3 linked regions of the Homo sapiens genome follow. The protein of the gene in region 3 purifies or fractionates together with the protein of the main gene of each other region. This does not show direct contact. Each region holds a gene or a part of one and is shown on either strand. Other genes may lie near its edges.

Region 1 (3,652 bases), on a different chromosome or scaffold from region 3:
TGCCTAGCATATTCTTTTTTATTTTTATTTTTTGAGACAGTGTCTCACTCTGTCACTCAGAGTGGAGTGCAGTGGCACAGTCACTCCAGCCTCAATCTTCCTGGGCTCAGGTAATCCTCCCACCTGAGTAGCTGGGACTGTAGGCATGCACCACCATGCCCAGCTAAAGCATATTCTTTAAAACAATATTCAGTTACTTTGTCAACACTAAATAATTTACCCTCTCCCATCTAAATCACTGTCATCTTCTCTTCAAAGTTGTTAACTGAAGTTTGGAGGTCACCCATTGTTCTTATTTTGAAATTGAATGTGTGCCCTTGAATTAACCTGACGTAACACTTCTTTCCTCTGTATTAGCAGTGCCACACTCTGCTCTATGTTTATAACCTACCAGCAAATAAGGATGGCAAGAGCGTCAGCAACAGGCTCAGACGCCTGTCCGATAATTGTGGTGGGAAAGTGCTGAGTATCACAGGCTGCAGTGCAATTCTCCGCTTCATAAACCAAGATAGTGCAGAGCGCGCTCAGAAGCGAATGGAAAACGAAGATGTCTTTGGTAATAGGATCATTGTGTCATTTACTCCAAAAAATAGAGAACTCTGTGAAACAAAGAGTTCAAATGCAATTGCTGATAAAGTGAAGTCTCCCAAAAAACTTAAGAATCCAAAATTGTGCCTCATCAAAGATGCAAGTGAACAATCTTCCAGTGCCAAAGCCACGCCTGGAAAAGGGTCACAGGCAAATTCTGGATCTGCTACAAAAAATACAAATGTTAAAAGTTTACAGGTAATTTTGATACCTCTTGCTTTCTGAAGTTTATGGTAGGTTTGGTTTGTTTCTGTGTTTTACGTGCCCGCTTGCTTTTGGCGTGTCCCTTTTTGATTTCAGTGTTTGATGATACTCAAAGTCAATCGTTTTCTGTAAAGGATCTAACACATCTTGGGTACTTAAAATTTAAACCCCACTGTGCTTGTGTCTTTGAAGGAGCTGTGCCGCATGGAGTCAAAAACTGGTCATAGAAACAGTGAGCACCAGCAAGGTCACCTGAGGCTGGTCGTACCCACTCACGGTAACTCAAGTGCTGCAGTGTCGACGCCGAAAAACTCGGGGGTGGCAGAACCCGTTTACAAAACCAGTCAGAAGTATGTGAAACTACTCTTTCTCATAGCTGCTTCTTGAATGTGAAGGAAGACATATGACCTTTTGCCTTCAATTTTCCCCTTCTGTTAGAAAGGAGAACCTCAGTGCCCGAAGTGTTACCAGTTCTCCTGTAGAGAAAAAAGATAAAGAGGAGACTGTATTCCAAGTGAGTTACCCGTCTGCTTTTAGCAAGTTAGTTGCATCCAGGCAAGTCAGTCCTCTGCTCGCATCTCAGTCTTGGTCTTCTAGGTGAGTCCAGCTTCTTGACCCATGGGGGTGGTTACATGTAATAGGAAGGATTATGAAATAGTATGTTTGTTGAAAAGAATTCAGATAGTACTGAAATGCACAAAGTAAGTCTCCCATCACTCTTCTGCCAGTCCCCCTCTCCTCAGGTAATCATCGTTAACATTTAGGGGCAATGCTTTCACCATTTCTTCTTCCTCCATCTGGAAATTGTGGTAAGCAGAGGTCAGAAAGAGAAGCCTGTTGGAGAGTCCCTGGCCAGTGCAGGGGGGCATGTAAAGATGTCCCTATGTTCGCTGTGTTGAGGAAAAAGCCCAAACGAGCCGTGCATTGGTGGTTCTGATTCATATGGTTCTGTATAGGAAGCTATTTGGAAGTAAAGTTTTCTGTAAACCATGGTAATTATTTATCACTGTCTCTCACACCAAGGAATTCTTGATGCTTGGGAGACAGAGAAGCCGTAAGGCCGTGTTGCATTCCCATGAGCTCCTTTTAGCATTGTGTTTGTTCTGCTGAGTTGGTGGCAGATCACTGTAGAAAGTGACTATGGATCAGCCGGGCGTGGTGGCTCACGCCTGTAATCCCAGCACTTTGGGAGGCCGAGGCGGGAGGATCATGAGGTTAGGAGATCAAGACCATCCTGGCTAACCGGCTAACACGGTGAAACCCCATCTCTACTAAAAATACAAAAAATTAGCCGGGCGTGGTAGTGAGTGCCTGCAGTCCCAGTTACTTGGGAGGCTGAGGCAGGAGAATGGCATGAACCTGGGAGGTGGAGGTTGCAGTGAGCTCAGATCGCATGACTGCACTCCAGCCTGGGTGACAGAGCGAGACTCCGTCTCAAAAAAAAAAAAAAAAAAAGAGAAAGTGACTATGGATCTATAAAATTACATCTAAAAAGCCACATAAAAGTTTTCCTTATGTGCAGAAAGAACTGTAACATGTAGGCAAGAACGTTTAACTCTTTCAGAGACACAGAGGAGGTTAGACGCCTTAAATTGGTATCACAGGCTGATTTCCTAAGGATAATGCACAAAGCAGAAGGTTAATTCATCAGGACTGCCTCTAATTCCTGCCTTTAGCTTTAACCCAAAGGAAGAATATATATTAATTGGTTGGCGGTAATTAGGGGTCAGTAGATAGTACTTTTGACAATGTCTGAAATCAATGTGTATTTAAGATTAAAAACACAGCTGGGCACAGTGGCTCACGCCTGTAATCCCAGCCCTTTGGGAGGCTGAGGCAGGTGGATCACTTGAGGTCAGGAGTTTAAGACCAGCCTGGCCAACATGGTAAAACCCCATCTCTACCAAAAATAAAAAAAATTAGCTGGGTGTAGTGGTGCATGCCTGTAGTCCCAGCTACTGGGGAGGCTGAGACAGGAGAATTGCTTGAATCCAGGAGGTGGAGGTTGCAGTAAGCCGAGATCGTGCCATTGCACTCCAGCCTGGGTGACAGAGCGAGACTCTGTCTCAAAAAAAAAAAAAAAAAAAAAAAGATTAAAAACACATTTGAAAACCAAATGTTTGGTTTGGTTGTGTTGTGGAAAATCTGCTTCTGTATATAGTTTCAAACAAAGCCTAAATGATAAAATCTAAATATACAGAACAGTTTTTTAAAATAATGTCAATATGTGTGTTTTAAGCAGGAGTATGTCTCCAAACCTTTTAAACAGAGCATCCCCGCTTGCTTTCAACATTGCAAATTCGAGCAGCGAAGCCGACTGCCCAGACCCATTTGCAAATGGTGCTGATGTCCAAGTCAGCAACATAGACTACAGATTATCCCGGAAGGAGCTGCAGCAGCTCCTGCAGGAAGCATTTGCCAGGCATGGCAAGGTAACTTTTTCCCTCTTGTGCTTGCTTTGTTATACTCTCTGATGGAGTCTCTAGTCAAGAGGACCTAATTTGATATACATAACCACAGCCGGGATAGAAGTGTGACTGAACAAGTTTGAACTCCTTCCTTTTCCCTTTGGTCTGCTCAGGGTGGTGCTATAAATCCAGTTTTTACAATGTTAGCCCCAGAGAGCAAGACGCCTAGCAGTGAAAAGCTCTTGTCTTAGGCAGAAATTGAAATGGCAATTTGTGGCCAGGCATGGCGGCTCATGCCTGTAATTCCAGCACTTTGGGAGGCCAAGGCGGCCAGATCACCTGAGGTCAGGAGTTTGAGACCAGCCTGGCGAGTGAAACCCCGTCTCTACTAAAAAAAAATTAGCCGGGCGTGGTGGTGCACGCCTGTAGTCCCAGCTCCTTAGGAGGCTAAG
Region 2 (3,652 bases), about 20 Mb from region 3:
TGTTGGGATTACAGGCATGAGCCATTGTTCCTGGTCTCAACCTTTCATGATGTAATATTAATTTTGAGATAATAAGACATCTTGAAGGCACTTGCATGCAAGTGTAGTTACATATCTTTAGGTGATTTCATCATTATGCAAACATCTTAGAGTGTATCTACACATACCTACATGATATAGCCTACTACACATCTAGGCTATAGCCTTTTATGGTATGGCCTATTGCTCCTAGGCTACAAACCTGGACAGCATGGTACTGTACGGAATACTGTAGAATTATAACACAATGGTAAGTATCTGTGTATCTATTTTATTTTATTTTATTTTGAGATGGAGTCTTACTGTCTCCCAGGCTGGAGTGCAGTGGCACAATCTTGGCTCACTGCAACCTCTGCCTCCTGGGTTCAAGTGATTCTCTGGCCTCAGCCTCCCAAGTAGCTGGGACTATAGGCCTGACAGGCCTGTGCCACCATGCCCGGCTAATTTTTTTTTTTTTTTTTTTTTTTGGCGGAGTTTCATTCTTGTTGCCCAGGCCAGAGTGCAATGGCGTGATCTGGGCTCACTGCAACCTCCACCTCCTGGGTTCAAGCGATTCTCCTGCCTCAGCCTTCTGAGTAGATGAGATTACAGGCATGTGCCACCATGCCTGGCTAATTTTGTATTTTTAGTGGAGATGGGGTTTCTCCATGTTGGTCAAGCTGGTCTCGAACTCCCGACCTCGGGTGATCCACCCACCTCAGCCTCTCAAAATGCTGAGATTACAGGCGTGAGCCACTGTGCTCGGCCTAATTTTTGTATTTTTAATAGAGACGGAGTCTTGCCATGTTGGCCAGGCTGGTCTTGAACTCCTGACCTCGAGTGATCTGCCCGCCTCAGCCTCCCAAAGCGTGAACCACTGCGCCCAGCCTTGTCTGTGTATCTAAACATAAAAAAAGTTTCAGTATTAGACAAATAATAGACGCTGGGCCCTTTATAAAGGGGAAGGGTGGGAGGAGGTTGAGATTTGAAAAATTACCTATTGGGTACAATGCTCACTATTTGGGTGATGGGCACACGAGAGACCAAAACCTCACTAATATTCAATATATGTAAGTAACAAACCTGCACATATATCCCCTGAATCCAGAAATTCAATAAATAGATCTCTAAATAGCCAGGTGCGGAGGCTCACGCCTGTAATCCCGTCACTTTGGGAGGCTGAGGTGGGCAGATCACCTGAGATCAGGAGTTCAAGACCAGCCTGGCCAATATCATGAAACCCTGTCTCTACTAAAAATACAGAAAATTAGCAAATTAGCTGGGCGTTGTAGCAGGCGCCTGTAATCCCAGCTGCTCATGAGACTGAGGCAGGAGAATCGCTTGAACCAGGGAGGCGGAGGTTGCAGTGAGCCGAGATTGCGCCACTGCACTCCAGCCTGGGCGACAGAGCAAGAGTCAGTAAATAAATAAATAAATAATAAATAAATAATAACAACAACAAAAAGCAAAGGTACAGTATTATAATATTATGGGAACAACATCATATGTGTGGCCCATCATTTACTGAAATGCCATTATGTGGTGCACGACTGTACCTGTCATTTTGTAATATATGTATATATCCTAATTATCTTTTTCTGTTAATATTTGAGGCATTTGCATCAGTGTGTTAGGGCTGGGATATCAAAATGCCATAGACTGGGTGGTTTAAACAATGAAAATGTATTTTCCTACAGTCTTGGAGGACAGAAGTCCAAGATCAAGGTGTCAGAAGATGTGCTTTCTTCTGAAATCTCTGTCCTTGTCTGGCAGATGACCACCTTATCTCTGTGTTCTCACATGGTGTTTTTCCTAGTGTCTCCGGGGTGTCCACATTTTGTCTTTTTTTTTCGAGACGGAGTTTCGCTTTTGTTGCCCAGGCTGGAGTACAGTGGTGCAATCTCAGCTCACTGTAGCCTCTGCCTCCTGGGTTCAAGCAGTTCTCCTATCTTAGCCTCCTGAGTAGCTGGGATTACAGGCGCCCACCACCACACCCGGCTAATTTTTTGTATTTTTAGTAGAGATGAGTTTCACCATGTTGGCCAGGCTGGTCTTGAACTCTTGACCTCAGGTGATCCACCCACCTCGGCCTCCCAAAGTGTTGGGATTACAGGCGTGAGTCACTGTGCCCGGCCTCACATTTTATCTTCTTATAAGGGTGCCAGTCAGTTTAGGTTGGGCCCCACTGTAACAGTCTCACTTTTTTTTTTTTTTTAATGCCCAGGCTGGAGTGCCGTGGTGTGATCTTGGCTCACTGCAACCTCCGTCTCCCAGGTTCAAGGGATTCTCCTGCCTCAGCCTCCTGGGTAGCTGGGATTACAGGCATGCACCACTACACCCAGCTAATTTTTGTATTTTTAGTAGAGACAAGGTTTCACCATGTTGGCCAGGCTGGTCTCGAACTCCTAATCTCAGGTGATCTGCCCACCTCGGCCTCCCAAAGTGCTGGGATTACAGGCGTGAGCCATCGCACCTGACCCAGTCTCACTTTTTAATCACCTCTTTGAAGGCTTTATCTCAGTTGAGGTCACATTCTGAGGTACTGGGGGGTTGAGGCTTCAACATACAAATTTTTTGGTTGCTGGGGGAGACAACTCACATTTGATAGATTTCAACCTTGACTTACCTCCCAGATCATGGCCATTTGCCTATAGAGTAGCACCCTTGGGAGTAAGTTACAAGATCCCCAGTGGACGCCTGAAAGCATGCATGGTACAGAGCCTGATATATACTGTTTTTTTCTATGCATACATACCTATCATAAAGATTTATTTATAAATGAGATGCAGTTCTCTTTTATTATTAGTTATTATTGTTAGTTTCTTAGATGCAGACCGAAGCTAACAATAGTAACTAATAATAAAATAGAACAATTATAACAATACACTGTACTAAAAGTTATGTGAAAGTTACCTGCGTCTCTCAAAATATCTTTTTTTTTTTTTTTTTTCTGAGACGGAGTTTTGCTCTTGTTGTCCAGGCTGGAGTGCAGTGGCACAATCTCGGCTCACTGCAACCTCTGCCTCTCGGGTTCAAGTGATTCTCCTGCCTCAGCCTCCCGAGTAGCTGGGATCACAGGTGCCCGCTACCACGCCCGGCTAATTTTTTGTACTTTTAGTAGAGATGGGGTTTCCCCATGTTGGCCAGGCTGTTCTCAAACTCCTAACCTCAGGTGATCCGCCTGCCTCAGCCTCCCAAAGTGCTGGGATTACAAGTGTGAGCCACCACGCCTGGCCTCAAAATATCTTATTATACTGTACTCACTCTTCTTATGATGATGTGAGATAATACAATGCCTACATGTTGAGATAAAATGAGGTGAATAGTGAGATAATTCATATCCAGGGTGAGAAGGAGTGGGTCAACATGACATTTCATCACAGTATTTAGAATTGCATGCAATTTAAAACTTCTACATTGTGTATTTCTAGAATTTTTCATTTAATATATTTGGACTGCTGTTGATTACGGGAAATTGTGGAAAGTGAAACTGGGCTGGGCTCTGTGGCTCAAGCCTGTAATCTCAGCACTTTGGGAGGCTAACGCAGGAGCATCGCTTGAGCTCAGGAGCTCAAGACCAGCCTGGGCAATGTAGTGAGACCCCATCTCTACAAAAAAATAGAAAAATTAGCCA
Region 3 (3,652 bases):
AAAGAAAGGACGAATCTGCTTGTTTGAATGAGAAATACCAAATTCTAGTAAAACCGTTTGTTTTTCACTTTTTGCCGTTAACGAAAAAGTAGCTTTACTTGCTAAGGGGAACTGTTGTGAGTGTATAAATTATACTTTGGCCTGTTGGTTAGCTTCTGATTTCCGTTTCTGATGTGGCATGGGAATTAAAATATCTTACGGCTAGAATCTTGTCTTTCATTATAGACCAGAGCAGATAATCAGCTCAACACTGTCGTCACCATCAAGTAATGCCCCAGACCCATGTGCAAAGGAGACTGTACTGAGTGCCCTCAAAGAGAAGAAGAAGAAAAGGACAGTGGAGGAAGAAGACCAAATATTCCTTGATGGCCAGGAAAATAAAAGAAGGTAACAGGCTCAGGAGAGTACTAAGCCAGTTTCCCGCTTGGACCCCTATGGGATGAGATGTAGACATTCCCGTAAAGATACAGAGGCCACGTCCAGTTTGTGAGCCTTCATAGGCCTCCTTCTTTGGCTTTCATGAGAGAACCTAATAACAAGGGTTTTAATGCTGTTCATTTCAAGGCACAGGTTAGATCGATGTCATAATTTACCTTTTCTGTGAGTAGCAGAGATAAGCTGACAGCTATTAGCCATGTTAGCCTCATGCTTCTGTAGAAACGTGTTAAAAGTTTATTTTCAAGAAAGAAGGCTCTAAGTCTTCCGGTCGGAATTTTGTGGTGTTCAGTTATTTGGGTAACCACCAGTTCTAGTGTCTTTTTTTTTTTTTTTTTGAGTTGGAGTCTGTCTCTGTCCCCCAGGCTGGAGTGCAGTGGCCCGATCTCAGCTCACTGCAAGCTCAGCCTCCCAGGTTCATGCCATTCTCCTGCCTCAGCCCCCCGAGTAGCTGGGACTACAGGCGCCCGCCACCATGCCCAGCTAATTTTTTTGTATTTTTAGTAGAGACAGGGTCTCACCATATTGGCCAGGATGGTCTCAAACTCCTGACCTCGTGATCCGCCCACCTTGGCCTCCCAAAGTGCTGGGATTACAGGCTTGAGCCATGGCGCCCGGCCCACCAGTTCTAGTGTCTTAATTGTGCTGAAGGAAATGCTTGGGAAAGAAAAATGAAAACTAGAGTTTGGTAGTTTTATCAATAATGAGATTAAAACCAATTTCCTGGCAGGGCAAGGTGGCTCACGCCTATAATCCCAGCACCTTGAGAGGCCGAGGCGGGTGGATCACCTGAGGTCAGGAGTTCGAGACCAGCCTGGCCAACATGGTGAAACCCCGTCTCTACTAAAAATACAAAAATTAGCTGGATGTGGTGGTGGGTGCCTGTAGTCCCAGCTACTCCAGAGGCTGAGACAGGAGAACTGCTTGAACCCAGGAGGCGGAGGTTGCAGCGAGCCGAGACCATGCCAGTGCACTCTAGCCTGGGTGACAGAGCGAGACTGTCTCAAAAAAAAAAAAAAAAATTCCTTATGTGGTTTGTAAAATAACCTAATGAAAATGGAATAGTTTTCTAATTACAGAAAGAAAAGAAGTTGAAGTGGGTGAGCATTTACTGAGCACCCACTGTGTATGAGACCCTACTGCAAGTACTGTGGATAGAGCAGTGGACAAGACAAAATCTCTGCTCTCATGGGACTCTTGAGGGAAACACCATTTTATAAGGCTGGGTATGGTGGTGCATGCCTGTACTCCTAACACTTTGACAGGCCAAGGTGGGAGGATCGCTGGAACCCAGGAGCTCAAGACCAGCCTGGGCAACATAGGGAGCCCTCGCCTGTACAAAAAATTAAGAAATTAGCCAGGTGTGGTGGTGCATACTTGTAGTCCCAGCTGCGCTGGAGGCTGAGGCAGGAGAATTGGTTGAACCCGGGAGGCAGAGGTTTGTTGCAGTGAGCCAAGATTGTGCTATTGCACTCCAGCCTGGGCAACAAGAGTGAAACTCTGTCTGAAAAAAAAAAATTTACCTTTCAGAAACTTAGGGATTTTAAACAACCATTTTCTGGTCTAGCATGGAATCTGTGCTCCATAGAGATAGTATAAGGTCCCAGAAATGTGAGAATACACTTTAAAGGGACAAACAAAGTCATGTCATTTCATTTGAGACTTTTTTGATTTGTCGCAGGCGCCATGATAGCAGTGGCAGTGGACATTCAGCATTTGAGCCCCTGGTGGCCAGTGGAGTCCCCGCTTCTTTTGTGCCTAAGTAAGTGCGAGTCCATCCAGATGAAATACCAACTGTTTGGAAAAAGGCCTGATCAGAGCTGTTGCCCTATAGATTTTCCTCTTTGTTTTTTGCATTGCTTAATTAGTTCAGGTTCATGTCTTTGAAATTAGGAATATTCTGAGTAACTTGTCACAATTAACTGCCTTCTGTCTAATTCCTTTTAATGTTCTTGCATTAATATGGATGAAATATGCTGAGACTAGAGGTTTTATAAATATATTTAATAACCAAGCACATACACAGAAGGATTGCAAAGTTTGTGCAGCGGATAAGACAGTATGAAACTTAAATGTTTAATTTCTACATGTCAGTTTAAAAACAAATTGGAGGAAGAATTGGGTGGAAAGGAAAGTGGCTCAAAAGTCTGTGTGGAAAGACTTAGGATAACTTAGATACCTCATCTGAGTCAGCAGTGTGATGTGGCCACCAGGAAAGCTAAAGTGCTCCTGGTCTGTGCTGTTAGAAGAAAGACTAGAATGAGGCAGGTATTCCTGCCTTCCGTAGTTCTGCTCACTGTCCGTGGAGCACTGTGGTCAGATCAGCGTACTGCACTGCGAGGGAGGATGTACACAAACGGAAATTCATTCCCAGTGAAGCAACGAAGATGTTAAGGAGATTTGCAACAGCCCAGAGGGGTGGTGGTGGATGATGGGGTTTTGGAGGTATGGAAGTATTAACCCAGAGGAGAAAAATCTCAGGAGGAATAAAGAAATAAGTGAGGGAAGGACAATGGTCTCCAAAAAACCAAAGGACTGTCCCTTGAAAGAAGCGAAATAACTTGCTCTGTTTGACTTCAAATAGGATCCGTGGGTGAAAGTTAGAGGAAATACATTGTAATCCACTGTGAGAATAAACTGGTTCATGGTTGACGTGGGTCACTCTAGGAGAGCGTTGTCTATATTGTAACAGGTTGGATGACTGTCCTACAGGAAAGATGCATAGGAGATTTCTGTTTCCATTGGAGGTTTAGAAAAATGATGGGTTCCTCTTAACTCTGATTTTTTTTTAACAGCTTTGTTGAGGTATAATTGACATAACTGTACTTGTTTAAAGCATGTGACATTTTGACACGCATACACCTGTGGAACCATCCCACCACTAAGATAATGAACATCCATGACCTCCAAAAGTTCCCACATGCCTGTAATCCCTCTCTTTAGTTCCACCCGTGTCCCCAGGCATCCACTGATCTGTCTTCTGTCACTGTAGATAGGTATGCATTTTCCAGAATATTCTATAAATCATACATTTAAGTTTTAAATATTTGGCTTTTCTTACTGACTTTGTCAGATAGATTTGGCCAGATTGTTAGCAGTAAAAATTAAAAGCATTATTCTCTTCCCTTCATGTTATTAAGAAAGATGTCATGACCGTGGATGAAATCGTAAAAGAATGTTGCCTTCAATAAAGCATCTAACTGTCTTCTCTTTTATT

What was found.
Region 1: the proteins of POM121C (region 3) and MARF1 purify together in Homo sapiens (affinity purification with mass spectrometry, with the first as the bait; one large-scale study listed by BioGRID). This does not show direct contact.
Region 2: the proteins of POM121C (region 3) and SEPTIN14 purify together in Homo sapiens (affinity purification with mass spectrometry, with the first as the bait; one large-scale study listed by BioGRID). This does not show direct contact.

Annotation. Positions count from the first base shown.
Region 1 is NC_000016.10:15,622,506-15,626,157, reverse strand, and holds part of MARF1 (meiosis regulator and mRNA stability factor 1), read left to right. Parts: intron 1-357; coding exon 358-786; intron 787-984; coding exon 985-1,142; intron 1,143-1,230; coding exon 1,231-1,389; intron 1,390-3,031; coding exon of another isoform or gene 3,032-3,034; coding exon 3,035-3,224; intron 3,225-3,652.
Region 2 is NC_000007.14:55,838,708-55,842,359, reverse strand, and holds part of SEPTIN14 (septin-14), read left to right. Parts: intron 1-3,652. UniProt on the Homo sapiens protein: Filament-forming cytoskeletal GTPase. Involved in the migration of cortical neurons and the formation of neuron leading processes during embryonic development.
Region 3 is NC_000007.14:75,437,689-75,441,340, reverse strand, and holds part of POM121C (nuclear envelope pore membrane protein POM 121C), read left to right. Parts: intron 1-225; coding exon 226-387; intron 388-2,116; coding exon 2,117-2,197; intron 2,198-3,652. UniProt on the Homo sapiens protein: Essential component of the nuclear pore complex (NPC). The repeat-containing domain may be involved in anchoring components of the pore complex to the pore membrane. When overexpressed in cells induces the formation of cytoplasmic annulate lamellae (AL).